Linked DNA regions of Homo sapiens. The protein of the gene in region 3 purifies or fractionates together with the protein of the main gene of each other region. This does not show direct contact. Each region holds a gene or a part of one and is shown on either strand. Other genes may lie near its edges.

The links.
Region 1: the proteins of LIN37 (region 3) and RBL2 purify together in Homo sapiens (affinity purification with western blotting; 5 studies listed by BioGRID and IntAct, with this or other methods). This does not show direct contact.
Region 2: the proteins of LIN37 (region 3) and LIN54 purify together in Homo sapiens (affinity purification with mass spectrometry; 6 studies listed by BioGRID and IntAct, with this or other methods). This does not show direct contact.
Region 4: the proteins of LIN37 (region 3) and LIN52 purify together in Homo sapiens (affinity purification with mass spectrometry; 8 studies listed by BioGRID and IntAct, with this or other methods). This does not show direct contact.

Annotation. Positions count from the first base shown.
Region 1 is NC_000016.10:53,429,370-53,437,470, reverse strand, and holds the start of RBL2 (retinoblastoma-like protein 2), read right to left. Parts: upstream 3,001-8,101; 5' UTR 2,915-3,000; coding exon 2,675-2,914; intron 1,853-2,674; exon of another isoform or gene 1,745-1,852; coding exon of another isoform or gene 1,727-1,744; intron 1-1,726. UniProt on the Homo sapiens protein: Key regulator of entry into cell division. Directly involved in heterochromatin formation by maintaining overall chromatin structure and, in particular, that of constitutive heterochromatin by stabilizing histone methylation.
Region 2 is NC_000004.12:82,979,557-82,986,855, forward strand, and holds part of LIN54 (protein lin-54 homolog), read right to left. Parts: intron 5,321-7,299; 5' UTR 5,289-5,320; coding exon 4,605-5,288; intron 1-4,604. UniProt on the Homo sapiens protein: Component of the DREAM complex, a multiprotein complex that can both act as a transcription activator or repressor depending on the context. In G0 phase, the complex binds to more than 800 promoters and is required for repression of E2F target genes.
Region 3 is NC_000019.10:35,744,634-35,751,793, forward strand, and holds the start of LIN37 (protein lin-37 homolog), read left to right. Parts: upstream 1-3,942; 5' UTR 3,943-4,091; coding exon 4,092-4,125; intron 4,126-4,180; exon of another isoform or gene 4,181-4,377; intron 4,378-7,160. Other genes in the region: U2AF1L4 (splicing factor U2AF 26 kDa subunit), read right to left, coding at 492-579, 715-758; PSENEN (gamma-secretase subunit PEN-2), read left to right, coding at 1,298-1,358, 1,786-1,890, 2,075-2,214.
Region 4 is NC_000014.9:74,087,670-74,094,968, forward strand, and holds part of LIN52 (protein lin-52 homolog), read left to right. Parts: intron 1-3,562; coding exon 3,563-3,637; intron 3,638-7,299.

The DNA.
Region 1 (8,101 bases), on a different chromosome or scaffold from region 3:
GGATGGAAGATGTCCTTTAGCTTCAATGTATTCATTACTGGTCTAAATGAAAATGAGAAGAACTGGAAATTCTTCCTTTTTTCACATTTACACATAGACTGTCTTACAAACCCACTTATATGTATCAATAGCATAGATGTTCTTTTGTAAAAAAAAAAAAAACAGCCAAGATCTGTGTATCACATATATCTCTGGGAGATGGTTTCATAATATTCTTGATTTATGATGTAAAAGCAAATTTAGATGCATAACTACTGCATTTCTCTACTATATCAATATCTCTTAGAAAGCATAAAGTTAAGTCGGTCACAGCATTATCCTCTGCTTCAATAAAGGGTTTAAAAGATAATCTATAATGTTCTATTTTGGCTCTAGAAAATTCACAACTACTTGGATGGTGGAGGGAGAAAAAAAAAAAGAAAAAAAATAGAAAGTTTACAACTATATCGTTCCTAAAAAGAAGAATTAGTCTTGTGAGAATTTTACAGTGCTTAGATGACAAAATGGAGCGCGAAGCTCTTTTAAATAATTTATGCAAAGAGTAGACTCTGTGCCTAGTTTATCTTTGGTCCTAAAAAATATATGTTGAAAATTCCATAATACTAAAAAAGTTATCCTCAAAATTAACATCTCATGGTCACATCTTCTAGGGTCAAATAGATCTGGTTTCAAATTCCGGCTCTGCCATACAGTAGCTATAACACAGTGGGGAAATTACTTAACAGTCTCAGAGGCTGCATTTTCTTGGCTGAGGACTGTGAGAATGAGTTACAGGTTAAAAATGCACAGAAAATACAAGAAATCAAGTTAAAATTCCATAACCAGTATTCTGTATTAAACATCATAAGAGCTTTATTTTCCCTTGCACTCCCATGAGAATGACATCCCATATTGTCACAGCGTACCTCACTGTAAGCCCCACAAGAGCAGGTTTGCTGCTCTATATCCAGCACCTAGAACAATGTGTAGCAAGTAATAGGTGCTCAAGAAATATTTGATGAATATTTTACTGAGTAAATCATTTACTGAATAAACTGGGCTAAGAAGCTGAAACTAAAGTCTCAGTAATCAAAAGAATTGAGTAATCAAACATGTTTTCAAAAATAATTTACTAACCAGCTATTACGTGATACTTGCTCATGTATCACTAGACTTCATACAACTTAACTGCTATGAGTTGAAATACCTCAAATAAATGGCGATAATGCTTGTTCTATCTGATTTACAGGATTATCTTGAGGGTAAAATAAGAGCTTGTTTGGAAGCCTTTAAGGCCATTTACCAAAAAAAAACCCAAAAAACAAAAAACAACATAAAAAGCCAACCAGTCCTTCTCTTTGCCAGACTACAGAAAGGCACTGAGAGATGAATAGGAACATAGCTTACTCAGCCAGATCATGTAAATATACAAAGAGCTTAGTAAACTTGAAAACACTGTCCATATGGGTGCTTTATGTGCCAGAAACTACATTATTGCCTTATTTAATCTTCAGAACAGCTCTGTGAGGTAAACACAAATATCTCCAGTTTAGAGATCACCATACTGAACTTTTCCAGCGGTTTCAGGTCTGTCGGGTTCTAAAGCCACCATACACTATCTTCTGCAGACCTAACAATTCAAAGAGGGAACTAGTAATTGAATTAAAATTCTATTAATGCAAATACAAATTAAAAATAACCTCACTCATCAGTACACATAGCCAAAAACATCATATTTAAATAATACCTTGGTTAGGCTTTGCATCCTGGACCTATTTGCCCGACTCTTTCTACAAATTAATTATAAAACGACTTGAGAAATCAAATGGCCTCAGGTTTAAATGCCACACACACAGTCAAACAGCTGATAAACAATCCGTACTTCCGTGTCACTTCCCATTGGCCCATGAAGGGGAGGTGCATACAAAGCTGACACTCACTGGCTAGAATGGCCATTTTTCTCATCTGCAAGCCCTGTCCGAAGGCTGCGACCTAACACACCCGGATCGCAACAACAACAGGAGTCCTGTGCAATGCCCGGGGTGACCAAAAAGCCCTCGAGGTAGCCACAGTCCTGATCCTAGTGACAAATGGGGGCATGTGTCTACATCCGGGTCGGCGGAGGGCTCATTTCATCTGGCCTGGGGGGAAATGAGTATTAATTTGTTTACACAGACGTAAACACAGCCCAAAACGCATCAGCACGTTGACTCAAACGCCCGCAACGCCAGGGCAAAGGCAATTTGGTTAACAGGGGGAAGCGAACAGACGGAGACGCCTGGAGACCCAGGTGCCACAACCCGGTTAATCGCGGTGCAAATAAGGGCAAGTCCCCTCCCCTTGTCCGTGTGGTCTTGACAACGACACTAGTTCATTCTACTAACAAGGCGGGCGGGGGGTCAGATGGGCCACACACACCCATTTTCCTCAACGGGACCCCAGCGCGATCTCAGCCTTGCTGTGCTACTTTAGGGCAAGACGCGTTCCCCATTCGGAAGCCGCAGGAAAGCGCGGCGAGAGCGGGTTAGCCCTCGGAGCGGCTAAGAGCCTCGGAATAGCGCAGAGGAAGTCCCCACCCCTCTCGGGGCTGGGAGCCCGCAACCCGCCCGAGAGTCTCTCGAGGCGCGCGACGCGGCTCGGAAGGCACCGGTTCACGCCAACTAGGCCGGAAGCGCCCCTCCGCCCGCGAGCGCACCTCCAGCGTGTAGCTTTCGCTCATGCTGCGGTAGCTGTCCCAGGCCTCGGCCCGCGCCGCCTCGTCCATGTTGAGGCGGCTGCACAGCTCGTCGAACCGCTGCTGGATCTGAGGGGTGGGCGACTCGGCAGGCGGCGCGGCGTCTTCCGCCTCGCCGTCGTCCTCCTCCTCCTCATCCGAGGCTGCCGCCGCCGGAGGGGGAGGCGGGGGCGGTGGCGACTGGTCACCTCCCGACGGCATAGCGCACCCCTGGGCGGCCGGACCTCAGGTGAGGTGAGGGCCCGGGCCCGCAGCCATTCAAACGGCGAAGCGCCCGCCCGTCCGCCGCCCGCACCGCGCCTGCGCCGCCGCAAACGACGCTGACCGCCTGCAGGCACCCGTAGTCTTGAGCACGGGCTGCTGGGAAACGTAGTCCAGGCCGGCGGTTCAAGGGGGCCAAAAATCATGTTTAAAAAAATTAGCTCCCCTAGTTTCACCAGGGGTGAAATAAAAGCACCTTCCCCGCATTTTAAACACGTACCTCCCCACCGTGAGAACATTCAACAGGGCTGTACTGACGAGAAAATGTCCAAAAGACACTGACGTGTGAAGGTTTCGTATCCAGGCTGTTCCCAGAAGTAAAACTTCCTCATCGCCTGGATATCCTTATCTAAAAAATAGGGATAATAGCAAGGGCCTGTCTCTGTACGTTCACGAAACTGCCTTTGCAAAAATCCTAACAGTGAGAAAGTTATGACAGTGCAAGGGATCTGACCTAAATGACTCCACGCTTCTCACTTCCGAGCTGCCCTTGTTCATTCCTGGGCGAAGACCTAACTAACTACAGGAGGAATTTAATTTCTAATTTCACTTTGAAACAAAGATTGTAACAGTCCTTTCCAAAAACAAACCCCATTCTTGCCTGGGGATCAGTCTGCCTTTGTAGAACTAACAAATTAGCCACAAGATTAGAAATTATGATTTAGGAGGCTTGCAGCCAGAGGCTATAAGATTCCTGACCTCCCCAATTGCTCTCAGGGATAACATCACTATTGTAAAACCTAAGATTGGTGCTGGAGATACTTTTCAGACCGCGCATTCCGATGCACTAGCTGGCGCCACTCAGACCATAATCTGGCTCAACAAGTTCTGCAATTCCACTCAGTAACAGAAGACAGCAAGAGCCCACTTCAACCCCCTGTGATTTCACCTCCCACCTGACAAATTAGCATTCGCCAATCCCTGGCCCCCTACCCGCCAAGTCATTCTTTAAAAACCCCAGTCTCCGAATTTTCTGGTAGGCTGATTTGAATAACCAAACTCCTGTCTGCCGTTCAGCTGGCTCTGCGTGAATTAAACTTTTTTTTTTTTTTTGAGACAGAGTCTGGCTCTGTTGCCCAGGCTGGAGTGTAGTGGCACGATCTCGGCTCACTGCAACCTCCGCCTCCTGGGTTCAAGCGATTCTCCTGCCTCAGCCTCCTGAGTATCTGGGATTACAGGTGTGCGCCACCGCACCCAGCTAATTTTTGTATTTTCAGTACAGGCAGGGTTTCACCATGTTGGCCAGGCTGGTCTCGAACTCCTGACCTCAAGTGATCCACCCACCTCGGCCTCCCAAAGTTCTGGGATTACAGGCGTGAGCCACCGTGCCCAGCCAATTCATTTTATTTCCAATTCTCCTTTCTTTATTTTAATTTTTTAAATTGCCAATCCTTGATTTATAAATGGGCTTGATATAAAACATTTTCCAGATTGAGGAGCAATCTGAGGATTGAGCAATTTGAGGATTCAGAAGGCATTACTGTTTTGCTATTTTTGTTTTGCTTGGTGGGATATGTAAACTGACAGAGGGAAAAGTGCTGGGACAAAAGTAGGGGCTTATGGAAGGTATAATGACAGGCGGGAGGACAGGAAATGGAACTCTGAAGATAGGAGAAAATCAGGTAGACAGGTAACAGGATATTTCAGGAACAATTTTGAGACAATGGAACCCTCTTAAGAAAACCTTAGTAAAATTCACAGTAATCAGCAATGCTTTTGGAGTTGGCTAAGTGATGAGTCTCAAGGTGACTATGGGGCAAGAACAGAAGTTGAACACAAATGGTTTAGAAGTATCTTAAGTATATAGGCTGGACGTTGTGGATCACACCTGTAAATCCAGCACTTTGGGAGGTCAAGGTGGGAGGACTGCTTGAGTACAGGAGTTCGAGACCAGCCTGGGCGACATAGTGAAACCCTGTCTCTACAAAAAATAGAAAAATTAACCCAGAGTGGTGGTACACGCCTGTAATCCTAGCTACTTGGGAGACTGAGGTGGGAGGAACGCCTAAGCCTGGGGAGTCTGCAGTGAACTGTGACCATGCCACTACAGCTTGGGCAACAGAGACCCTGTCTCAAAAAAATAATAATAAATAATTTGGCAAGGCGCGGTGGCTCACGCCTGTAATCCCTACACTTTGGGAGGCCAAGGCGGGCAGATCACTTAAGGTTAGGAGTTTAAGACCAGCCTGGCAAACATTGTGAAACCCCATTTCTACTAAAAATACAAAAAATTAGCCAGGAGTGGTGGCTGGTGCCAGTAATCCCAGCTACTCAGGAGGCTGAGGCAGGAGAATTGCTGGAACCCAGGAGGCAAAGACTGCAGTTAGCTGGGATCATGCCACTGCACTCCAGCCTGGGCGACAGAGCAACTCCATCTCAATAAATAAATAAATTAATAAATAATAAGTGTATTAAAATCTTAGTATTTTACCTGTATATACACTGGGAATATTGATTTTAAAATAATGATATTTCTTCCTTTGGAAATCATTATCAACACTTTACTATGTCAAAGCAAATAAAGAGGCCATGAGCCTGATATCATCTGTCTCTGTAGCTGGAGCTTATATGTAAGCAAACCAGAATTCAGTGTAAACAGTAAGACAACAGTAAAACAAAACATAAGCTTAACCAATCAGAAACTGCCAACTAGCCTCTAATTAGGGATTTTCCTTTTTTTTTTTTTTTTTTTTTTTTGGTGACAGAGTCTTGCCTTGTCACGCAGGCTGGAGTGCAATGATGCAATCTCGGCTTACTGCAACCTCTGCCTCCCAGGTTCAAGCGATTCTCCTGCCTCAGCCTCCAGAGTGGCTGGGATTACAGGAGCCAACCACCACACCGGCTAATTTTTGTATTTTTAGTAGAGACGGGGTTTAAGCACATTGGCCAGGCTGGTCTTGAACTCCTGACCTCAAATGATCCAACCACCTCGGCCTTCCAAAGTGCTGGGATTACAGGCATGAGCCACCGGGCCCAGCCCTCACACCCAAATAAGGCAAACACCCAGCTGTAGCCAATCAAGTAACTGTTTTACTTTTCTATTAAAGCTTACTGCTCACCTGCAGAAGCGCTCTGAATATCTTCTTGTTTTAAGTGGTGCCCAATTCATGAATTGTTGTTTGCTTAAACTGTTAACTTGTCCAAAGTTTTTCTTTTAGCAACTAAGAGAAAAACTTAAATTGTTTTAACAATTAAAGTTTAACTTCAAACTGTTTAACTTAAACAAACGATGTGAAATTATCTTTACTATTTTTAGTAAAAGTTAATGTAATTTAAATAATTATTGCAATGTAAGCAAAATTGGTGGCAATAAACCATCAAATATGTATTTATTAAAATATCCTTTGCTTGTTAATACCAATGTTTTCAAAGCCTTTTGGGATGGGGGTGGGGTGGAATGGGGGTGTGAGTGTTACCTGAAAGGAGTCCCGATCCAGACCCCAAGAGAGGGTTCTTGGATCTCATGTAAGAAAGAATTCAGGGCGAGTCCACAGTGCAAAGCAAAAGAAAGTTTATTAAGAAAGTAAAGTGATGAGAGAACAGTTACTCCATAGAGAGTAGGACGTTCCCGAAAGTAGGAGGAGGAATGCATCCACCCTAGGTACAATACTTGTTTATAAATAGGATTTAGAAAGATCATGAGGAGATGTGCTCTGCCACAAGGGTTTGTGATAAAGGATTAATCTTCCTAATTACTATATTTTGCAAGAATTGATATTATCTTTAAAGCAAAATTAGGAATGCTTCTGTTCTCAAGATATCGGGATATCAGGACACTCCTAAGTCTGGGTCTGTTTAGTAAATGTTATCAATGTGTTCCCTTAACTATAAACATCTAGGGGCTAGGAATACCTAACTTTCTAGGAATGCAGCCCAGCCAGTCCCAGCCCCATTTTTCCTAGCCATCACTCAAGATGGAGTCACTCTGGTTTGGATGCCTCTGATATGGAGAAGTTAAATTTCCTTGAGGTTATTATTTGACTTATGAAGCTTAGTCATAAAATGCAAGAGGTCTTTCACCTGACTGGCACATGTGCTCTCTCTGTCTCTCATTCTCTCAGTCATTCTTCATTCACTCTTTGTACCCAGCCAACATACTGTGGGAAAGACCAGGTCACCTATTGTCAAAGATAAACAAAGCCGAACATTAGTTAAAGTGTGAAAAACGGATTTTACTGAGTAACTACTGACAGACAGCAGGGAAAGAGCTGAGCTTCATTCCAACTTTTTTAGATGTGACTTGGCCTTTTAAAGAAAGAGTAAAGGAGGAGGGGGAGAGAGCAGAGCTTGAGTAAAAAATTACAAAAGGTGGGTCAATGTTAATGTCATTAGGCTAGTTGTGTCTACTAGCCAGCAACTATCAAAGTCAGGCTACTGTCCCCTACACAGACTGGAAGACAGAACCCCTATTCTTCCTGATGATTTCAATGGGAGGGTGGGGGCAGGGAGCCCAGGATCATTCCAGAGAATTGACCCTAAGCTCCCAGAAGCAATGCAAAAATTTGATCCTCTCTCTCTCTCTCTTTTCTTTTGCTCATGAGATATGGTCATCTCTTAAGTGCAGAGGTTTGGAAGGAGCCTTTATGTGCCAAGAATTCTGCAGTTATCACCATGTGGATAGGACCCAAGGCCTCTGGCCCTCAGCTGTGTTGAATAAGCCAGTTTGGAAGCCGAAGCAGATCCTCCAGCCTTCAGTCAAATTGTCCTAGCTGATGTTGTATACAACAGAGATGAACCTTCCCACTGAGCCCTGCCCAACTGAAATCTGTGGGACAAAAAAATGATGTTTGACATTAACGTTCCTTCAAAGAAAGAGATTTTAAGTCACAGCCATTTTTGATCGTGGAGGTTAACTGATTCTGTCTTAGTTCTTGAGCAAGATGCTAGGAGTTGAAATTGTAACTGTCCAGTGAGTTTTTCTGGCCTGCTGCCCAGACTGAGTAGATTTATCAAGATAGGGGAATTGCATTAGAGAAAGAGTTTAATACACTCACAGCCAGCTAAACAGGAGACCGGACTTGTATGACTCAAATCAGTCTCCCTGAAAATTTGGAGACCAGGGTTTTTTAAGGATAATTTGCTGGGCAGGGGAGGGGTCTAGGGAGTGGGAACACTGGTGGAGTTGGG
Region 2 (7,299 bases), on a different chromosome or scaffold from region 3:
AATTTGGTAGAACAGAAACTATTATAAGGGCAACAGCTCTGAAATATTATTTACTAAACTATTATGTACTACACTTTTCTTCTTTTAAAGATGGGGTCCTGGCCAGGCGCAGTGGCTCACGCCTGTAATCCCAGCACTCTGGGAGGCTGAAGCAGGCAGACACTTGAGGTCAGGAGTTCAAGACCAGCCTGGCCAACATGGTGAAACCCTGTCTCTACAAAAATACAAAAATAAGCAGGGTGTGGTGGCGCACACCTATAATCTTAGCTACTCGGGAGGCTGAGGCAGGAGAATTGCTTGAACCCGGGAGCAGAGGTTGCAGGGAGTCGAGATTGCACCACTGCACTCCAGCCTGGGTGACAGAGTGAGTGAGACTCTGTCTCAAAAAAAAAAAAAAAAAAAAAAAAAAATACTGGGTCTCATCTCGTCACCCAGACTGGAGTGCAGTGGTGCACTCATAGTTCACTGCAGCCTCAAACTCCTGGGCTACAGCAACTGTTTATTATATTTTAAATTCCTTGAAGAGAGAAACTATATTTAATTCATCTCCAATTTGAAGTTACATATTGGCACACTGTTGACCTGAATTATAATTCTCCACAAGTCAAGGAGTGTAGAGTTACCAATTTTTTATATTGCGATTATCACCATATACAAAGACACAGCTTCTTCTAAAAGTTAAAAGAAGAAATTTACCTGGGATAAAAATCAAAGAATTTTAGAGTGTGAAGAACATTAAATATTAATTATATCTTTTGGCAATGAAAATTGAGACTGTAAAAGAACTATTTATTATAGGAAATAGTGACTCAAATGAAAAAATATGACCAACATGAATAACAGAAATACACCGGAAGTTATGATAGATCACAGAACTAGACAAATATTAGCTCTTTGTGCTCAAATTATAAATTAAACTAAATAACACATCTTACACCTACAATATATTACTTTTTTATACTCAGAGCACATTACTGACAAAAACCAACTGTATATAAAATACAAATCACTTAAAAAAAAACATACCCATTATTGTATTTAAAAACGGCCGACTTGCAAAACTATAACATACTCAAATAAATCTATAATTATACTCTAGAAAGCTAATGAAATTTAGAGAAATACAAATTTCTCAAGTATGTTTACAGACTTAAAACCCTAAAGTCAGTCAAAATTGTATCTATTGTATCTATAATATTAACAATCTCTAGAGGTAGAAGTATTAATATTCTTAGAAAGCCATATTAGCAATAAATAACCTTAGCTATAACAATTATGGGCTTAAAGTATTTCCCCATTTTAAACTGATTTTTCACAATCATGAGTATATGAATACTTATCAGTAAGAAAAAAATATAAACAGTACAACCAGAAGCACATTAATTATTCAAATAAACAATCTCATCTTGCCCTTGTGGTTATGTTTCTTTAGTGGTGCTGAAAATAATAACTTTTGGTTCCATTAAGGAACTATGATTTTTTTGCACTATGAATTCTAAAGTATCCTGGAACAAAATTATTAAGTAAAACAAAGCATCAAAGATTACTTTAACAAGTTTATAGAATCAGCAGCTTAAGATAAACATGAAAAAAAACTTACAAATAAGGTAGTAAAATATGTCATCAAATAATATATACAAGTAATTTTTGGCACTGTGTTGGATAGATTCAGGAGCTAGTAAGGAGTTATATTGTTCCAGACTGCTAGTTATGTACTACTCTTATATACTATGCACAGGAAACATGGGAAAGTGTTTATATATCTGTTATTACATATAATTATACCTCTGTTACTGCCTCTGGCTTCAAAGGTCACCTCTTTTCTTCATTTTTCAAGATGGCCTCCATCTTCCACCGTTGCCTGCTATCTATACCCTAACAGTCTCAATACTCTGACTAAACTTAACACTGACAACTACCTAGGGGGAAAAAAACCAGAAAATCATATACTCTTTGTAATACTAAACCAAATATTCTGGTGTCAAAAAAGGAAAAAATATAGATGCATAGTTTTTAATTTGTCTTTTGTGCTTCAGAGCTTTGAGGTTACTTCTGAGATGGAAAGACTTAAGTCGCCTAAAAATAATGGATTGTACAAGTAAAAAAAATTCTAAATCTAATTCCTTTTTATTGTTTTTTTTAATAGAATTCTTTTTTATTAGATAGAAACAGGCTTTAGAAAACTAACAATAGCCCAGGTGCAGTGGCTTATGCTTGTAATCCCAGCACTTTTGAGAGGCCAAGGCAGGTGGATTGCTTGTGTCCAGGAGTTTGAGACCAGCCTGGGCTACATGGCAAAGCCCCATCTCTACAAAAAAAATACAAAAATTGGCCAGGTGTGGTGGTTTGCATCTGTAGTCCCAGCTACTTGGGAGGCTGACGTGGGAGGAGCATTTGAGCTTGGGGGGTCAAGGCTGCAGTGGAGCACCCACTGCACTCCAGACTGGGTGACAGAGAGACCTGTCTCAAAAACAAAACAAAACAAAACAGAAAAGTAACAATAAAACAAGTTATAAGAATTAGACCCCAGTCTTTTTTTTATTGTCATTACTTAGGGAGTTAAAGTAGAGAAATAATAGATACAAGCAACACTGGTCATTGAAATGTCACATATACCTTGCTCTCATAAATGAAAAAAATGACATTCTAATTTATGATATCTTTTCCTTTTTTAGTTTATTTTTATTTTTTTGAGACAGGGTTTTCCTGTAGCCCAGGCTGAGGTGCAGTGATGCGACCACAGCTCACAGCAGCCTAGACCTCCCCGGCTCAAGCGACCCTCTCACCTCAGCCTCCTGAGTACCTGGGACCGCAAGTGTGCGCCACCATGCTGGGCTAATTTTTTGTATTTTTGGTAGAAACAGGGTTTCACTATGTTGCCCAGGCTGGTCTCGAACTCCTGGCCTCACAGAATCTGCCCACCTTGGCCTCCCAAAGTGTTGGGCTTACAGGTTCGTGAGCCACCACACCTGGCATCAGTTTCTTTTGAACATAATTATGATCCATATTGCCAAAGCCAAATAAACTTTGGTAAACCAATAAAAACAAGCTTCAAAACTGAGGACAAGATGCTTGATGGTGATAAGATATCTCATCCAAGAGATTCTTGGCAAAAATAAGAAGTAAAAGGAAGTCATAGATAAGTGAGAAGTAATAATGAACAAGAAAGAGCACTAAATGTTTAATAATGGCAAAGGGGACAGAGGCAAATTATAAGATTTAAGAAATTCTACAAAGTTCTTAAATGCAAAGCCCATGAAAAGTGGTTTCTAATTCTACTGTCAAAACAGTAACCAAAACATTACTCTAATATCAGCTGAGTGTAGTCTCCCAAAACCTTCCTACTTCCTTCTTATGCATTTCCTATTATTTCTATGCATTCAAAGACAACTCTTTCAAACAGAGGATACATTTTTGTTTCCTGGTCATAAGTATATCACTGCATTTCTTGTTTTTTTTTTTTTTTTTGAGATGGAGTTTCGCTCTTGTCACCCAGGCTGGAGTGCAATGGCGCGATCTCGGCTCACTGCAACCTCTGCCTCCCGGGTTCAACCGATTCTCCTGTCTCAGCCTCCTGAGTAGCTGGGATTATAGGCACTCGCCACCATGCCTGGCTAATTTTTTGTATTTTTAGTAGAGATGAGGTTTCACCATGTTGGGCAGGCTAGTCTCAAACTCCTGACCTCAGGTGATCCGCCCACCTCAGCCTGCCAAAGTGCTGGGTGGGATTACAGGCTTAAGCCACCACGCCCCGCCGATCACTGCATTTCCAAGAGTAGTGGTGGCCTAAGAAAGCCTATTTGGGCATGATAAACTGGAAATCACTTAATATATATTCCAGTAACCTTCTTTCTTAGGGTCCTATTCATACTAATAATAGGTACCATTATGAAACATCCTCAATATTTTGAGAATTATACTACACATTTCATCTTGATCAAAAAGTATTCTTAAGATAAAGTCAAAAACTCAGAGAAGATAAGTAACCTACGAAAGTTTTCCATAACTGGTAGGATAAGATAGAGGCAACTCAAGCCCAGTTGGTACAACTCTAAAGCCTGTATGTTATCTTCCATCACATGTCACTGTCTTTTCCATAGTACAAACATGAATAATGGCAATGAACAGTAAACTCCAAATAAAAGGCACACGCTGGCTGACACGCACTATTACTGGCTCTGAGGGTTTCTCAGAGCAACAAAGTTCTCCTAGCCTTTGGCCATCTGTGAACTGAAAAAAAAAAATGTTGTCTACATGATTTTTTTGATAGCCCAGCAGCAAGTCTGGCATATTTATACCAGCAAAACATCCTTGTAATCAAACTACCACTAAGAATAAAATGCATTTTAAAATTAGTAAAAGGCTATAAATATACTAATTTGGAATTTAACCAAAATTAAGTTTGCTTTCTAAGTTATCTGGTAAAAATTTTCATAAGCATTAGACATATCAAACTTAAAAACACACACACACAATTACATAAAACAACATTCAAAAGAATTCAGTAACAACTATGTATTTAGTAACCCTATAAACACAACTATGAATCAGTTAAATTTTTTTAAACATGCATTTTAATTAGTAAGCCCCCTTTTTTCTTTTACCTGTACTGTTTTTAACTGTTGGGTCTGTAACACAGAGGGCTGAGTTGTAGTATTAATCAGTTGACTTCCTGGGGTCAATGCTGAGACACCAATGACAGGTTTCACCTCTGGCCTCCCTCCAATGGTAACTACTTTAATTTGCTGCGGTGGTAACTTAGCATCTCCTGACTGGGCCTGAGTTGTAACTTTCTGAGCCTGGGGTAGTTGGCTATGGGGTAGTGCTAAAACAATTGGTGAACCAGACTTGCCCAAAGTTGTTAAAATTAACTTCTGTCCATCTGGTTTAAGGGTCTGATTGCCAAGTTTAAGATCAGATGTCTGTGATACTTTGTTTAAAATAATCTGATTGGCTGATATAGTCACAGGAGTCTGAGCACCAAGTTTTTGAAGGCCACTTGGAAAAGCTGGTTTCACTGTGGTATTAGAATCTGCTTTAGTAATTGTGGTATTCACTGCAACTTGGTTAGTGTGGTTACTGTACACTGTGATTGGTTCCGTGGAAATGGGCGTGGCTGTAGAGTCACCAGTAGAATTTATGTTGACAATTTCTTCCAGTTCTGTCTCCATGGGAATTGGGGATGAAACAATAACAGCCTCAATACTATCATCATCCACTAAAGTTATACCAGTGTCCATTATTTCCTCTGGAAGCAAACTATTCACCTCAGCTGGCACCACCTCCATGATCGTTCTCCCGCTAGAAAGTTGATCAGGCACTGTAATAAAAGTTGAAAAATGAACAAGTTACTAGGTTTCAAAAGATGTAAGAAAAAAATTCAAAAAAAATGCAAATGGCAAAATGACAATTTTTAAATTGATATATAATTGAATGAAGAATATTCCTGAAGCTTATCTGGGTTAAATCATGTTAACACATCCTCAACCTGCAAGAATCTATAATATAAGTCATATGGGAACACAAAACTAGAAGCAAACATTCTTACTCTCGTCTCAATCCACAAGTATCTTGCACTCAGGCAACACTAAGTCACATAATCACATGAAACTCCTTTCCAACGCCCTCTAATAAAATTTGTAATCTTTGATGTATCTGATCTTATTTCTACCCAGATTTTTTTCCTCTCATTGACAGACTTGAAAACTGCTGATTCACACAAGGAAATAAAGATTTAAATATTAACATATTGTAAAATACATTCAAATCTCCAATGAGCTACGTCCTAATATGAGTGTACTATCCCATTTTAAAAATCCATTAAATACCCAAATTAAAGTTAAAGGAGTTTCTAGAGTAATACATCTCAGCAATTGCAGATCAAATAGCATTTGTGGTACAACTTTGACCAACTAGCTTCATACCAGGGAAATTTTTATTTGGAAAGAAGATTCTCAAACCCTCCTTGGCCATTTACTTACTTACTTAATTAATTAATTATTGAGACGGAGTCTCACTCTGTTGCCAAGGCTGAAGTGCAGTGGCACAATCTCAGCTCACTGCAACCTCCGCTTCCTGGGTTCAAGCAATTCTCCTGCCTCAGCCTCCTGAGTAGCTGGAATTACAGGCGCCTGCCACCAAGCCGGGCTAATTTTTGTACTTTTAGTAGAGACAGGGTTTTGCCATGTTGGCCAGGCTGGTCTCGAACTCCTAACCTCGGGTGATCCACCTGCCTCGGCCTCCCAAAGTACTGGGATTACAGGCGTGAGCCACCGTGCCTGGCCATCCTCCGCCATTTAAAGTGTCAAAAAGAACCATTTAAGAGATGTACAGCCAATCCCCATGAAGAAAAAAAGTAATAATCATAAAGCAGATTACGAAAAACTTTGAGCTGTGGTACTTTTAGCCAAAGGTCTGTAGAACTTCCAATAAAGGAATCAATTTTATTATCTTCATGTATAAAAGACAGCACATCATGTTTATGACAGACTAAATAGCAGTGAGTTATTTGCCCAGAGAACATCAAAGATCCATAGGAACCAAATCAGCAACTTTCTTCTCTTCCTTTTCGTTTTTGAGACAGAGTCTCGCTCTTGTTACCCAGGCTGGAGTGCAGTGGCGCAATCTCGGCTCACCGCAACCTCCACCTCCCAGGTTCAAGCGATTCTCCTGCCTCAGCCTCCCAAGTAGCTGGGATTACAGGCATGTGCCACCACGCCCAGCTAATTTTTTGTATTTTTAGTAGAGACAAGGTTTCTCCATGTTGGTCAGGCTGGTCTCAAACTCCCAACCTCAGGTGATCTGCCCACGCTGGCCTCCCAAAGTGCTGGGATTATAGGTGTGAGCCACCATGCCCGGCCCCCTTTTTTTAAATATAAAAATACACCACCCCGGCTGGGCATTCTGGCAGATCACGAGGTAGGCAGATCACAAGGTCAAGAGATGGAGACGATCCTGGCCAACATGGTGAAACCCCGTCTCAACTAAAAATACAAAAATTAGCTGGGCATGGTGGCATGCACCTATAGTCCCAGCTACTCAGGAGGCTGAGGCAGAAGAATCACTTGAACCTGGGAGGCAGAGGTTGCAATGAGCCGAGATCGTGCCACTGCACTTGAGCCGGGCGACAGAGCGAGACCCCATCTCAAAAAAAAAAAAAAAAAAAAAAAAGATACAACACCCATCCAAAATTAACACACAAGTAGCAAATTACAACTATTAGCATTGGCAAATACTACTACCACCAAAATAAACCATCATTATTGAGTGCTTACAACACTGATGACGTAATTTAATTTA
Region 3 (7,160 bases):
CCGTCTGCAGTTTGGGCTGTGTTCTGTGGATTCCGGTACAGGTTGAGCAGCACTATGGTCTGCACAGAATTTAAAAGGGGCGGGGCCTGAGCTCAGAGGGCAGGGCTGCATGAACAGAGAGTGAGGCATGAAGGTTGGGGGTGGAACCTTACACCCCAGCCTAAGCATCATGAGTGCATCGGCGATCCTTTGCCCCTAAGAAACCAGAAAAGGGATGGAGGGGACTGGCAAGGATGAACAGCGGGATGGAAGGGACTGGCAAAGATGAACAGCCGCCGTGTGTAGCCTGTACGCATGGGGGCGCGACCAAGTTCCCGGGAAAACGGCACGAAGACCGGTGGGAGGAGCCTGCAGAAAGGTCCAATGAGAAAAAAAGCCGGGCGGTGGGGAGGGACTCAGGAACCCGGAATAGGCGGGACATGGTGACGACGGCCCCAGAAGGGGAAGGGCCAGGGAGCCGTTAACCCCCGAGGCTCCGTGCCGGGTCTCACCTGGCTGAATGTCGGCTTGTTGTGAAGCCGGGAGCACCGGTCCCCGTGCCGGCAGACCCCGATCTTAAAGTAAAAAGAGCAGTTAACCCTGGAAAAGGTGCAAAGACAAAGGTGAACCGAGGGCCGGGGAAGCTGGGCACCCCAGAAACACCGCCCCACCACCCAGGACCCCAGTACCCCGGCCCCGACCCCCCGAGAGTCCACTCCCAGCGCCCGTTCTCACTTGTCCTTCTCAGTCCCGAATATCGAAGCTAAATATTCAGCCATTTTTACCCAAGCCCTCCAGGTCTGGCTGCTCTTACGTCACTTCCGTTGCTTAGGAGCACTGGGAAGTGTAGTTCGTTGCCCTCTCCAGGCGCTTACCAAGCGCTCGGAAACGCCCCAGGGCGCTTGCGCGTGGGAGGCGCGCGCCCTCCCCATAGACTCCCCGGTAGGAGTTCTTTTAACAGCGCATGCGTGCAGTGTTGCCTCGCCCAAAGAAGACTACAATCTCCAGGGAAACCTGGGGCGTCTCGCGCAAACGTCCATAACTGAAAGTAGCTAAGGCACCCCAGCCGGAGGAAGTGAGCTCTCCTGGTGAGTTGGGGGTCGTTTCGCCCACCCTAGTAAATATAAAGAGCTCTTTAATCCAGCCAGCTTACTAGTGGGGGTGGGGATGCCCTGCTTTCAGCAAACCGACCTTTACATTTATCTCTGATTTGTTCTAATAGGGGCGTGGTTGTTCGTGATCCTTGCATCTGTTACTTAGGGTCAAGGCTTGGGTCTTGCCCCGCAGACCCTTGGGACGACCCGGCCCCAGCGCAGCTATGAACCTGGAGCGAGTGTCCAATGAGGAGAAATTGAACCTGTGCCGGAAGTACTACCTGGGTAAGGCAGATCGCTAGGGTCCCAGGAGAAGAGAGGGGACTGGACTAGAGCACCCGAGGGAAGAGGGCCTCGGGGCCTGGATTCTTAAGTCTAAGAGATGAAGGACCTGCGAACGCCGACTCCTGGATTTGAGTGGGGAGGGCCTGGGTCCTGAGGAATGAGGAAGCTGGGGCCTCAATTTCTGGATCCCAAGAGAGGAGGGGGATTGAGGGCCTGGACTCTTGGGTCCTGTGAAAGAGATGGTTGAGGAATCAGATTCCTGGATCCCAAAGAGGAGCCAGATTCCTGAGTCCCTGACAACAGAAATCTCCATTTGAACTTGGGTGTGGGAGAGTTTCTTCCAAATAGATCTCGGTGGGAGTTGGAGAAGATCTTCATTGCCTTATGAGGTTTTGGGGTTTGTTTGTTTGTTTTTCTTTCTCCCTAGGGGGGTTTGCTTTCCTGCCTTTTCTCTGGTTGGTCAACATCTTCTGGTTCTTCCGAGAGGCCTTCCTTGTCCCAGCCTACACAGAACAGAGCCAAATCAAAGGCTGTGAGTCTAGAGCACAGAGGAGGGAGGCCAGTGGCAGGGGAGAGGGGGAAGCGGGGAATCTTGGTGGGAAGGGACAATGGAGGATCCAAAATGTTGGGGCTCTGGGTGAGAAGGGAAGGCTGGTCTAGGGAAGTCTGGAGAGCAGCCGGAGGCCAACCCTTCCAGCTTCTGTTTCCCATGACAGATGTCTGGCGCTCAGCTGTGGGCTTCCTCTTCTGGGTGATAGTGCTCACCTCCTGGATCACCATCTTCCAGATCTACCGGCCCCGCTGGGGTGCCCTTGGGGACTACCTCTCCTTCACCATACCCCTGGGCACCCCCTGACAACTTCTGCACATACTGGGGCCCTGCTTATTCTCCCAGGACAGGCTCCTTAAAGCAGAGGAGCCTGTCCTGGGAGCCCCTTCTCAAACTCCTAAGACTTGTTTTCATGTCCCACGTTCTCTGCTGACATCCCCCAATAAAGGACCCTAACTTTCGATACTGACTTCCTGGGATCTTTTAGAGGTTGAGGCATAAATGATTATTAATATTTAAAAACATCTGTTGAGAGCTTTGTACGAGGCTTAGTATTTAGACATGATGTACATTTTTTACAGTGCATACTACTCATAATCTTCTGAACTAGGAACTTTCCTGCTCAGGAAACTATTAGATGAGAAACTAAGAAAGGAATAGTGCTTCCATTTCTTTTTCTTTTTTCTTTTTTTTTTTTTTTTTTGAGACAGAGTCTTGCTCTGTCAGCCAGGCTGGAGTGCAGTGGTAGGATCGGCCTAGTGCTTCCATTTCTAGGGGCTGTTATCCTGTACTGGTAGTCGTGAATTCAAAAATATAACTTTCCTACTGTGGGCTGCAGTATTCTCATCAGAAGTGTAGATCACGATGCTACTTCCTGGGATTTATCTGGACCAAGACGTGTGACAAATGGAAGTTTCCCGTTTTCTGAAGGAAGTGTTGTCTGCAAAAATAAAAATAGTCAAGAGCTTTCTCAGAGAATCCTTCCTTGACCATCCATCTTATTTAAAATTCAATCACCACCTTGATATTCCTATGTCCCTTTCAGGCTACACTTTTTTTGTGGGTTTTTTTTTTGGGGGGGGAGAGGGGTTTGTTGTTGTTGTCTGTTTGTTTTTCTAGATGGAGTCTTGCTCTGTCACCCAGGCTGGAGTGCAGAGGTCCGATCTCGGCTCACTGCAACCTCCGCCTCCCGGGTTCAAGCGATTCTCCTGCCTCAAACTCTCGAATAGCTGGGATTACAGGCGCATGCCACCATGCCCGGCTAATTTTTGTATTTTTAGTAAAGACTGGGTTTCACCATGTTGGCCAGGCTGGTCTCGAACTCCTGGTCACAGGTGATCTGCCTGCCTAGGCCTCCCAAAGAGCTGGGATTTACAGGCGTGAGCCACCATGCCCCGCCCAGATCATATTCTTTCTCCTATTACATTTCACTTAAAATTTACTTGTTTACTGTTTATCTTCCCTCCTTTAAAAGATAAGCTCCATTAGCGCAGGGATTTTTGTCTATTCTGTTCCTCAAGGTGTCTCCAATGCCTAGAAGAGTGCCCGACACACTAATAAATATTTGCAAAATGAATGAAGTTGTACCTGCAAAGAGATTAACAGATACCTGGCACCTAGCGAGTGCTCAGTGAGAGGGAACCCAACGTTATTTTACATTAGTCTTCCTCTTAGGGATGAAGGGACCCCAACGGTTGGTTAAATCCGGTAAAGAGCTAACTTGGTGTTGCTCAACCCTTCTCACACTACAAGTCCCGGGAAGCCTCGCGATGCCCTAATCCTTTGTTTCCCACCGTGCCCCGCGCGGCGCAGGCGCTGTTACTCAGGGTGAGTCTGGGAAGCTGGAACTACACCTCCCAGGAAGCTAGGGGGTAGATGGTTTGTTTCCGGAAGCAAAGCCCCAGGTGGGTGGGACCTAAAGCTGGGAGACTACGGAGGCAGCTCTCAATTGGTCAGGATGCGAGATTGACGGCTGCAATAACTAATAGGAACAAGCTACTGCCGAAGGGGCCCGCCCACAGAAGGGTGGTGGCCACGGTCCAGGCTGGACACAACCAAAGGCGGAGGACCCGTGGCCCACGAAGCTCATCTTTGAACTGTCCCCGCCTTCTCCCGCCTTGACTTGTGACCCTAGGCCCTTTGGGGCGCCTCTGACCCAGCTAGCCAGATCCCGGACCCAAACCATGTTCCCTGTGAAGGTGAAAGTGGAGAAATCAGGTGAGGACCCTGACGTCGGGGGCCTGTCGGGACCATCGGGTTGACAGGGTGTGGAGTCCCGGTGGAAGGGAGTATCGCGGAAAGGGGACTGCACGACTTTTCCCTGAAGCCCACCTGACAATCGCTGTATCAGGCAGCGAGCGTTGCCTGCCACCTTCACACCCTCCCGGTGTGCGCTTGAAGTCGCTTTGAGATTGAATGGGGTGGCTCGGGCAATGACGTGCGTGGTAGGACATGGGGAATCCTGAGCCGGTAACTCTGAGAAGGGCCCTTTTCTTTCCTCTTTTTTTTAATTTAAATTTTTAAAATATTTAAATAGAGACGGAGTATCGCTATATTGCCCAGGCTGGTCTCGAACTCCTGGTCTCAAGCGATCCTCCCGCCTTAGCCTCCCAAAGTGCTGAGATTACAGGCGTGAGTCCCCGCGCCCAGCCGAGAAGTTCTCTTTTCTTGGCTTCCCCTCAGTTTCCCCATTTCCAGCAGTGATCAGAGTCACACATCTTGCTGTGAGCCTGAAGTACAGGCACTCTTAATCCTCACAGTCACTATATTCCAGTAATCCTAGAAAATAGGAACTGTGGTCAATGGGTGAAGCTTAGAAAGAGGAGAGAATTTTGGGTTGGGGCGGAGCTGACCGGATCCCAGGCCTGGCATGGTAAGGGCAGTGGGAGGGGTGCAGAATTTAGACAGAAAGATAATAGTAAAATGATGTAGGATGTCCCATGGCAAAAGTGTTATTAAAACAAAGTGGGAGGCTGGGTGCGGTGGCTCACACCTGTAATCCCAACACTTTGGGAGGCCGAGGCTGGCAGATCACTTGAGGTCAGGAGTTTGAGACCAGCCTGGGCAACATAGCGAAACGCTGTCTCTATAAAAAATACAAAAAAAAAAAAAAAATTAGCCAGGTGTGGTGGCACAAGCCTGTAGTCCCAGCTACTCAGGAGGCTGAGGCAGGAGGATCGCTGGAGCCGGGGAGGCGGAGGTTGCAGTGAGCTGAGATCACACCACTGCACTCCAGCCTGGGTGATAGATTGAGACCCTGTCTCAAAAAAAAAAAAAAAGAAAGGAAAAGAAAAGAAAGAAAGAAAAGAGAAGTGGGTGTGACCACAAATGATGGTGAGGGAAGGTGTACACCTGTGAGTGCCAGGCTGAGGAGTGCAGACTCCACCCCTGGGTGCTGTGGAGTCATGGAAGTTTCCAAGCAAGGGAAGATCAGGGTCAGGTTTGTTATTTTTCAGGAAGATTCCCCTGGCTGCCTTGTGGAGGGTGTATCAGAAGGGGGACACTGAGGCAGGGAGCCAAGGGGGAGCAAAGGACAGGACCAGGATGGGTAGAGTAGGGAGGAGGTGGGTGGGAGAGACACTCGGGAGGCCTAGTGGACAGGCCATGGGGTTGGTGGGCTGGGTAGGGGAGGGAGAGGGGTATCCATGGTGAGGTACAGGGAGGGACTTGGGGACAGTGAGGCGACCCTTGAGAGGGAGGCTTCAGGCCCAAGTCGGGGGTTCAGGAGAGAGGCTGGGCCTGAGGAGAGTTGTGGACGTGATCCGTACCCTCTGCATCTGCCCAAGGCTTTGCTGCAATCTCAGCTACTCCCTTCCCCACCCTCACTCTGTCTCTCCTCTGAGCTATGTTTGAATCCCTGTGTCTCCTGGGCTTCTCAGGAAGTCCCTGGACTGGTCAGGCAAGTTCCCAGGTGTCCCCTCCAGGCTCTGAGCACTAGAGCCAGAGCTCCCACCAGTCAGAAAGGCAGAGCAAACACCTCTCAAAGGTAGGAGGACAGCGTAACATCATCACTTCCTCAAGTTCTGTGATGACGGGAGGCAGCCACAGGCTAACTGGGCAGGAAGGTGGGCCTAGATCTCATTTCCCGAGGGGGAAAAAAAAGCCCAAACAGGATGTTTTAGGTGAAATCTCCCAATTTTGGCTGGGTGCGGTGGCTTCTGCCTGTAATCCAGCACTTTGGGAGGCTGAGGCAGGTGGATCATGAGGTCAGGAGTTTGAGATCAGCCTGGTCAATATGGTGAAACCCTGTCTGTACTAAAAATAGAAAAAATTAGTTGACCATGGTGGCACGCGCCTGTAGTCCCAGTTCTTTGGGAGGCTGAGGCAGGAGAATCACTTGTACTCAGGAGGCAGAGGTTGCAGTGAGCCGAGATCACGCCACTGCACTCCAGCCTGGGAGACAGAGCAAGACTCCGTCTCAAAAAAAAGAAAAGAAAGAAATCTCCCAATTTTTAAATGTCAGCTCATTCAGATTGAATTCAGATTTAAAATTATACCACTGTTGGCCGGGCATGGTGGCTCACGCCTGTAAGCACTTTGGGAGCCTGAGGCCAGCAGATCACTGAGGTCAGGAGTTTGAGACCAGCCTGGTCAACGTGGTAAGACCCCATCTCTACTAAAAATACAAAAATTAGCCAGGCGTGGTGGCGGGCGCCTGTAATCCCAGCTATTTGGGAGGCTGAGGCAGGAGAATCACTTGAACCTGGGAGGTGGAGGTTGCAGTGAGCCAAGATTATGCCACTGCATTCCAGCCTGGGTGACAGAGCAAGACTCCGTCTCACAAAACAGAAATACATTAATTAATTAAAATAAAATTATACCACTGCCTCAACCAGATTCTGCACTCAGGTTGAGCCTCTGTCTCATAACTTCAGCTTTGGAACCAGACAGCCTGGGTTCAAATCATCAGCTCTGCAATTTCTTTGCTGTGTGCCTTTGAGCACGTGGCCTAACATCTCTGTGCCTCAGTTTCATCATCTTTAAAATAGGAATAAAAATCATATCTATCTGAGCTGGGCTCTATGGCATGTGCCTATAGCCCCAGCTACTTGGGAGGCTGAGACAGCAGGACCGCTTGAGCCCAGGAGTTCAAAACCGGACAACATCGTGATATCCTTTTTCAAGAAAAAAAAAAATCACATCTACCTCTAAGGGTTATTGTGATAATTCAGTGGGTTATTATTTGTAATATATAGCATATTTAAACCTTGCCACTGGGACAGGCACAGTGGCTCACACCTGTAATCCCAGCA
Region 4 (7,299 bases), on a different chromosome or scaffold from region 3:
TGTCACTGTCTTTAAAATTTAATTCAGATAATATTTATTTTAATATGTTTGTCATTTACTCTTTTGTCTTTTTCGTGATAAATTTGCTGGAGCGTCTTTGAAAAGGAGAAAACTGAAATTCAAATACAGCCATCTAATTACTTAATTTATGAGAGTAAGACTCACAGCAGAGTCTGAGTTCTATCCCAGACTGTGGTATCATAAGGTCACCCATGTAGGTTATTAGATTGTACCCCCAATAATTTTTTTTTAACTTTCTTTTAGAGACAGGGTCTCTCTCACTCTATTGCCCATGCTGAAATGCAGTGATATGATTATAGCTCACTGCACCCTCAAAGGCTCAAGCGATTCTCCCATCTCAGCCTCCTAAGTAGCTGGTACTATAGGCTCACACCACCATGCCCAGCTAATTTATTATTATTATTATTTATTTTGTTTTGAGACGGAGTCTCACTCTGTCACCCAGGCTGGAGTGCTGTGGCATGATCTCGGGTCACTGCAACCTCCGCCTCCTGGGTTCAAGTAATTCTCATGCATCAGCCTCTCCAGTAGCTGGGATAACAGGCACACGCCACCACACCTGGCTAATTTTTGTATTTTGAGTAGAGACGGGGTTTCACCATGTTGCCCAGGCTAGTCTTGAACTCCTGACCTCAGGTGATGCACTCACCTCGGCCTCCCAAAGTGCTAGGATTACAGGCGTGAGCCACCATGCCCCCACCTTATTATTTTTTGTAGAGATGGAGTCTCACTATGTTGCCCAGGATGGTCTCAAACTCCTGGGCTCAAGCAATCTTCCTGCCTCGGCTTCCCAAAGCACTGGGATTCCAGACATGAGCCACTGTACCTGGCCCAATAACTTTACTTTTGTTATGGTTGAACATTCCTCAGAAATCGGTAACAAAGAGAAGCTAATTTTTGGATGCTTTAATTAAGGCAATGTATTAGTTGAGTTCTTTACAATTAAAATGCCATTGGAAATTCCTTTGGAATATTTGGCAAAACAAATTCAGTTTAGAGAAAAGTACATTTTGTACGTATGTATATTTTCTGGGGAGTGAGTTCATTTTATTTCCCAGATTTCCAGAGATGTGGTTACCCAGAAAATGTTAAGAACTGCTGTTTATAGCATTAAATGAACTAGTTATGCAACTGGTTAGCATACTGAGCATACAATAAAAACTCAACAAATGTTAATATTGAGTACTACTGTGTGCAAGGGAAGAGTGGAAGAGAAATGATGTCAAAGAATTAGGTAGAGGCTGAGTAAGATTTTATAGAGTGTGGTAGATACACATTCACAGATTTAGCTGGGAGGAACTTTAAGCTGGAGAGAGACACGAACTGATTGACGTTTAAAAAAATCAATTCTGGCCTCTTTATGGAGAATAGATTCCGGGGGTGTGAAGGGGAAAGGGTAAGAATGGGAGCAGAGAGATCTGTTAAGAGGCTGTTGAAGTAGTCCAAGAAAGAAGTGATGGTTCCTTGGGTTATTTGATTTCAGGGTGTATTCTGAAGGTAGAAACGACTAGATTTACTCATGGATTGGTTATGGAAGGGTGAAGGAAAAGAATGCATGAAGGATGACATCTGGGTTTTTGATCTGAGAATTGGAATTTATGGTAGTGTTATTTCTTGAGATGGGAGAAGATTGGGGGAATATGGTTTTGAAGATAATTAGGTTTAAAGTTTAAGTGGGGATTTTTTTTTTTTTTTTGAGACAGGATGTGGCTCTATCACCCAGGCTGGAGTGCAGTGGTGTGACCTTAGCTAACTGCAGCTGCCACCTCTGGGCTCAAGCCATCCTTCCACCTCAGCCTCCCAAGTAGCTGGGACTACAGGCTGACACCACCACACCTGGCTAATTTTTTTGCTTTTTGTAGAGATGGGTTTTCACTATGTTGGCCAGGCTGGTCTCAAACTCGTGAGCTCAAGCAATCCACCCACCTCGGCCTCCCAAAACTGCTGGGATTACAGGCGTGCACCACTGCATCTGGCCTTAAGCAGTTTTTTTATATGTAAATAGAGAGGGATTCAAATAACCACTTGGACATAAACCTTTGTAGTTCTTTAGAAAGGTTGGGAATGGAAATATAAATATGGAGTCATTGGCATACAGATGAAGATAAAAGTCCTCATGTTGAAATAGGGGAGTTCCCTAACCGCAGGACATACGACAGGGGTGTGGCTTGTCTGTGTGCACTCAATCCTCTTATGGGAGAGGGAGCACGCAGATGGGCAGGTGTAGGAGTCAGGGCGAGCACTTTTGGGCTCCAGCCCCACGGTAGCATCTAGGGGTGGGTGCCTGTGACTCCCAAAGCCCAAGTGGGCATGTATAACAGTGCACTCTTTTTTTTTTTTTTTTTTGAGATGGAGTCTTGCTTTGTTGCCCAGGCTGGAGTGCAGTGGTGTGATCTTGGCTCACTGCAACCTCCACCTCCCAGGTTCAAACGATTCTCCTGCCTCATCCTCCCCAGTAACTAGGATTACAGGTGTGTTCCCCCATGCCTGACCAATTTTTGTATTTTTAGTAGAGACAGGGTTTCACTATGTTGGCCAGGCTGGTCTTGAACTCCGGACCTCAAGTGATCCACCCATCTTGGCCTCCCAAAGTGCTGGGATTATAGGCATGAGGCACCCCACCTGCCCTGGTGTTTTTTGTTTGTTTGTTTGTTTGTTTTTTTGAGATGGCGTCTCATTCTGTTGCCTGGGCTGGAGTACAGTGGTGCAATCTTGGCTCACTGTAACCTCTGCCTCCCGGGTTTAAGCAATTCTCCTCCCTCAGCCTCCTGAGTAGCTGGGATTACAGGCGCCTGCTACCACACCCAGCTAATTTTTTGTATTTTTAGTAGAGACAGGGTTTCACCACGTTGGCCAGGCTGGTCTCAAACTCCTGACCTTGTGATTCACCCGTGTTGGCCTCCCAAAGTGCTGGGATTACAGGCATGAGCCACCATGTCCGGCTGGGGTTTTTTTTTGAAACACAGAAATTCTGCAACCAGCTTGATTGGTACTGCTCCTTTTTAAAGAGATTTTTAAAGAGTTACTTATTTTGTAAAGTTTTATTTATTTTGAAGCTAGTCAAATTTAGCAGTGGGGGGTTGTGTACAAACTTTAGTGACACTGAGATGAGGCTAGAGAAGGTAGAAACTGATGGTACCTGAGAAAGATGATATGCAAATGATGTCCTTGATAAAGCAAGAGAAGATGGCATCTAGAGTGCTATCAGAAGAGTCTGTTTCATGGAAGGAGAAACACTTAATTCATTGTAACTGGAGGAAAGCACAAGAGTATGAATGAAGATGCAGGTGGGTTCATTGATACTCATTTTTCTTAACACTCCCAATAAAATATCATTCCCATTCATAGATTGAAAGAGTGAGGTTTGGTAAGGGAGAATGATTTATTTGTATTCTATCACGGACCAGTGGCATCAATAGTTACAGAACTCATATCTCTAGACTTCCAGGTGAGTGTTCCAGTTTATGTCCTTTGAGATTGAAGTATCATATACATTAATGTGTTTCCTGTCTTCTTGGTTCATCTGGATGTTTTGTTCTAGGGACAGATCTGGAAGCATCTTTGCTAAGTTTTGAAAAACTTGACCGTGCCTCACCAGATCTTTGGCCAGAACAATGTAAGTTTTTGCCTTCTTTATATCAGAGTCAATGCAGGAGAAACAATGTTCCTTTTTAAAGAGATTTTTAAAGAGTTATTTATTTTGTAAATTTTTATTTATTTTGAAGCTAGTCAAATTTAGCAGTGGGGGGTTGTATACAAACTTTAGTGACACTAACGTTAATAAGTTCTGATAACAGGCTGAGCTTGTTGGCTCATGCCTGTAATCCCAGCACTTTGGGAGGCCGAGTTGGGAGGATCACCTGAGGTCAGGAGTTTGAGACCAGCGTGGCCAACATGGTGAAACCCTGTCTCTACTAAAAAAAAAATAGAAATATTAGCTGGATGTGGTGGCACACACCTGTAATCCCAGCTACTCAGGAGGCTGAGGCATGAGAATCTTTTGAACCCAGGAGGCGGAGGCTGCAGTGAGCAGAGATTGTGCCACTGCACTTCAGCCTGTGTGACAGGGTGAGACTCTGTCTCAAAAAAAAAAAAAAAAAAAAAAAAGTTCTGATAACCCATTACCATCAGACCAGGCTGAAGAGTTATCATTTAACTTTAATGATTAAAGTTTTATTTTATTTCAAAGAGAAGAGATTGAAGTCCAGTGTTAAGAATAGCTGTTTGGTGGTTTAATTTGTTCAGAACACAGTGTGACTCAGAAAATAAGGAGCCATTAAACAATAATAATTATTTTGTTTGAACCAGAGTCTCTCTCTGTCGCCCAGGGTGGAGTGCAGTGGTGCACTCGGGTCACTGCATCCTCTGCCTCAGGGTTCAAGCGATTGTCCTGCCTCAGCCTCCCAAGTAGCTGGGACTACAGGTGCATGCCACCATGCCCGGCTAATTTTTTGTATTTTTAGTAGAGACAGGGTTTCACCATGTTGGCCAGGCTGGTCTCGAACTCCTGACCTCAGGTGATCCACCTGCCTCAGCGTCCCAAAGTGCTGGGATTACAGGTGTGAGCCACCGTGCCTAGCCAACAATAATTATTATTATTATATATATGTATATATATATATATGTTTTTTTTAGACGGAGTTTCGCTCTAGTTGCCCAGGCTGGAGTGCAATTGCTCAGTGTTGGCTCACTGCAACCTCTGCCTCCCAGGTTCAAGCGATTCTCCTGCCTCGGCTCCCGAGTAGCTGGGATTACAGGCACATGCCGCAATGCCCGGCTAATTTTTTGTATTTTTAGTAGAGACAGGGTTTTGCCATGTTGGCCAGGCTGGTCTCAAACTCCTGATCTCAGGTGATCCACCCACCTCGGCCTCCCAGAGTGCTGGGATTACAGGCGTGAGCCACCATGGCTGGCCATTAATTACTTTTTAAAACTACATTTATAGGCTGGGCATGGTGGTTCATGCCTGTAGTCCCAGCACTTTGGGAGGCCAATGCGGGTGGATCACTTGAGGCTAGGAGTTTGAGACCAGCCTCGCCAACATGGCGAAACCCTGTCTCTATCAAAAATACAAAAATTAACTGGCCGTGGTGGTGCACACCTGCTATCCCAGCTACTCAGGAGGCTAAGGCACGAGAATTGCCTGAACCCGGGAGGCGGAGGTTGCAGTGAGCCAAGATTGCACTATTGCACTCGAGCCTGGGCAACAGAGAAAGACTCTTTCTCAAAAAAATCCCCCAAACTACACTTATTTGTTTGTTTGTGTATTTATTTATTTGAGATGGAGTCTTGCTCATGTCGCTCAGGCTGGAGTGCAATGGTGCAATCTCGGCTCACTGCAACGTCCGCCTCCCTGGTTCAAGCGATGCTCCTGCCTCAGCCTCCCGAGTAGCTGAGATTATAGGTGCCCGCCACAATGCTCAGCTAATTTTTGTATTTGTAGTACAGACGGCTTTTCACCAAGTAGGTTGGTCTTGAACTCCTGACCTCAGGTGATCCGCCCACCTCGGCCTCCCAAAGTGCCGAAATTTCAGGAGTGAGCCACCACAGCCAGCCCCCAAAACTACATTTATAAGAAATTCACATAATACTGAGATATATAAAGCGTTTTCTCACCTTTTTCAATCACTCTTTTTTTTTTTTTTTTTTTTGAGATGGAGTTTCACTCTTGTTCCCCAGGCTGTGCAGTATAATGGTGCAGTCTTGGCTCACAGCAACCTCTGCTTCCGGGTTCAAGCAATTCTCCTGCCTCAGCCCCCCAAGTAGCTGGGATCACAGGTGCATGCCACCACACCTGGCTAATTTTTGTATTTATAGTAGAGAAGAGGCTTCACCATGTTGGACAGGCTGGTCTTGAACTCCAGACCTCAGATGATCTGCCTGCCTCAGCCTCCCAAAGTGCTAGTATTAGAGGCCTGAACCACTGCACCTGGCCCACTCTTATAACGTTAACCACTGTTAATCGTACAAATCCTTGTAAAAGGTACAACTCCGGCCAGGTGTGATGGCTCACGCCTGTAATCCAAGCACTTTGAGAGGCCGAGGTGGGCGGATTACCTGAAGTCAGGAGTTTGAGATCAGCCTAGCTAACATGGCGAAACCCCGTTTCTACTAAAAATACAAAAAATTAGCTGAGCGTGGTGGCACATGCCTGTAATCCCAGCTACTTGGGAGGCTGAGGCAGGAGAATCGCTTGAACCCGGGAGGCAGAGGTTGCAGTGAGCAGAGATTGCAGTGAGCTGAGATCACTCCATTGCACTCCAGGTTGAGCAACAAGAGTGAAACTCTGTCTCAAAAAAAAAAAAAAAGGTACAAATCCTTTTGACCTATTTTATACAGATAAGGAAATAATAATTTTTTAAGTATGTATAAGAGGGATTTTTTTTTTCTTCATAATGTTGGAGTCATATGCATGTGGCCTGCCACTTAACTTACTCCACATGTGAACAGTTCCATCTTGGTATGTGTATGTCTACTTCATTCTTTTAAATATATTTCATTGTATGGATATATTATAGTTTATGTATTCATACATTATTTGGAAACTTAAGTTATATCTACTTTGTAGTTTTTTTTTTTTTTTAATTTGAGCAAGGGTCTCACTCTGTCACCCAGGCTTTGTGCAGTGGCGTGATCACAGCTGACTGCAGCCTCAACCTCCTGGGCTCAAGTGATCCTCTCACTTCAGCCTCCTGAGTAGCTGGGACCACAGGCATGTACCACCACAACCAGCTATTTAAAAAATTTTGGGGGGGACAAGATCTCACTGTGTTGCCCAGACTGGTCTCAGACTCCTGGGCTCAGGCTGTCTTTCCACCTTGGCCTCCCAGAGCACTGGGATTACAGGTGTGAGGCACTGTGCCTGGCCTATATCTAGTTTTTGACTTTACAGACAGTTTATCAGTGAATACCCATGTACACATATCTTCATATACATGGAAGAGGATAACTGTATGAGGGCCCCTTTCCTCACATACTAGCCAGTATTAGATGTTACTAATCTATTAGTTTCATTTTACATTTCCTTTTTGGTGAGATTGAACTTTTTTTTTTTTGAGATGGAGTCTCGCTCTGTTGCCCAGGTTGGAGTGCAATGGCGTGATCTCAGCTCACTGCAACCTCCACCTCCCGGGTTCAAGCAATTCTCCTGCCTCAGCCTCCTGAATAGCTGGGACTACAGGCACATGCCGCCACACCCAGCTAATCTTTTGTATTTTAGTAGAGACGGGGTTTCACTGTGTTGCCCAGGCTGGTCTCCAACTCCTGAGCTCAGGCAAA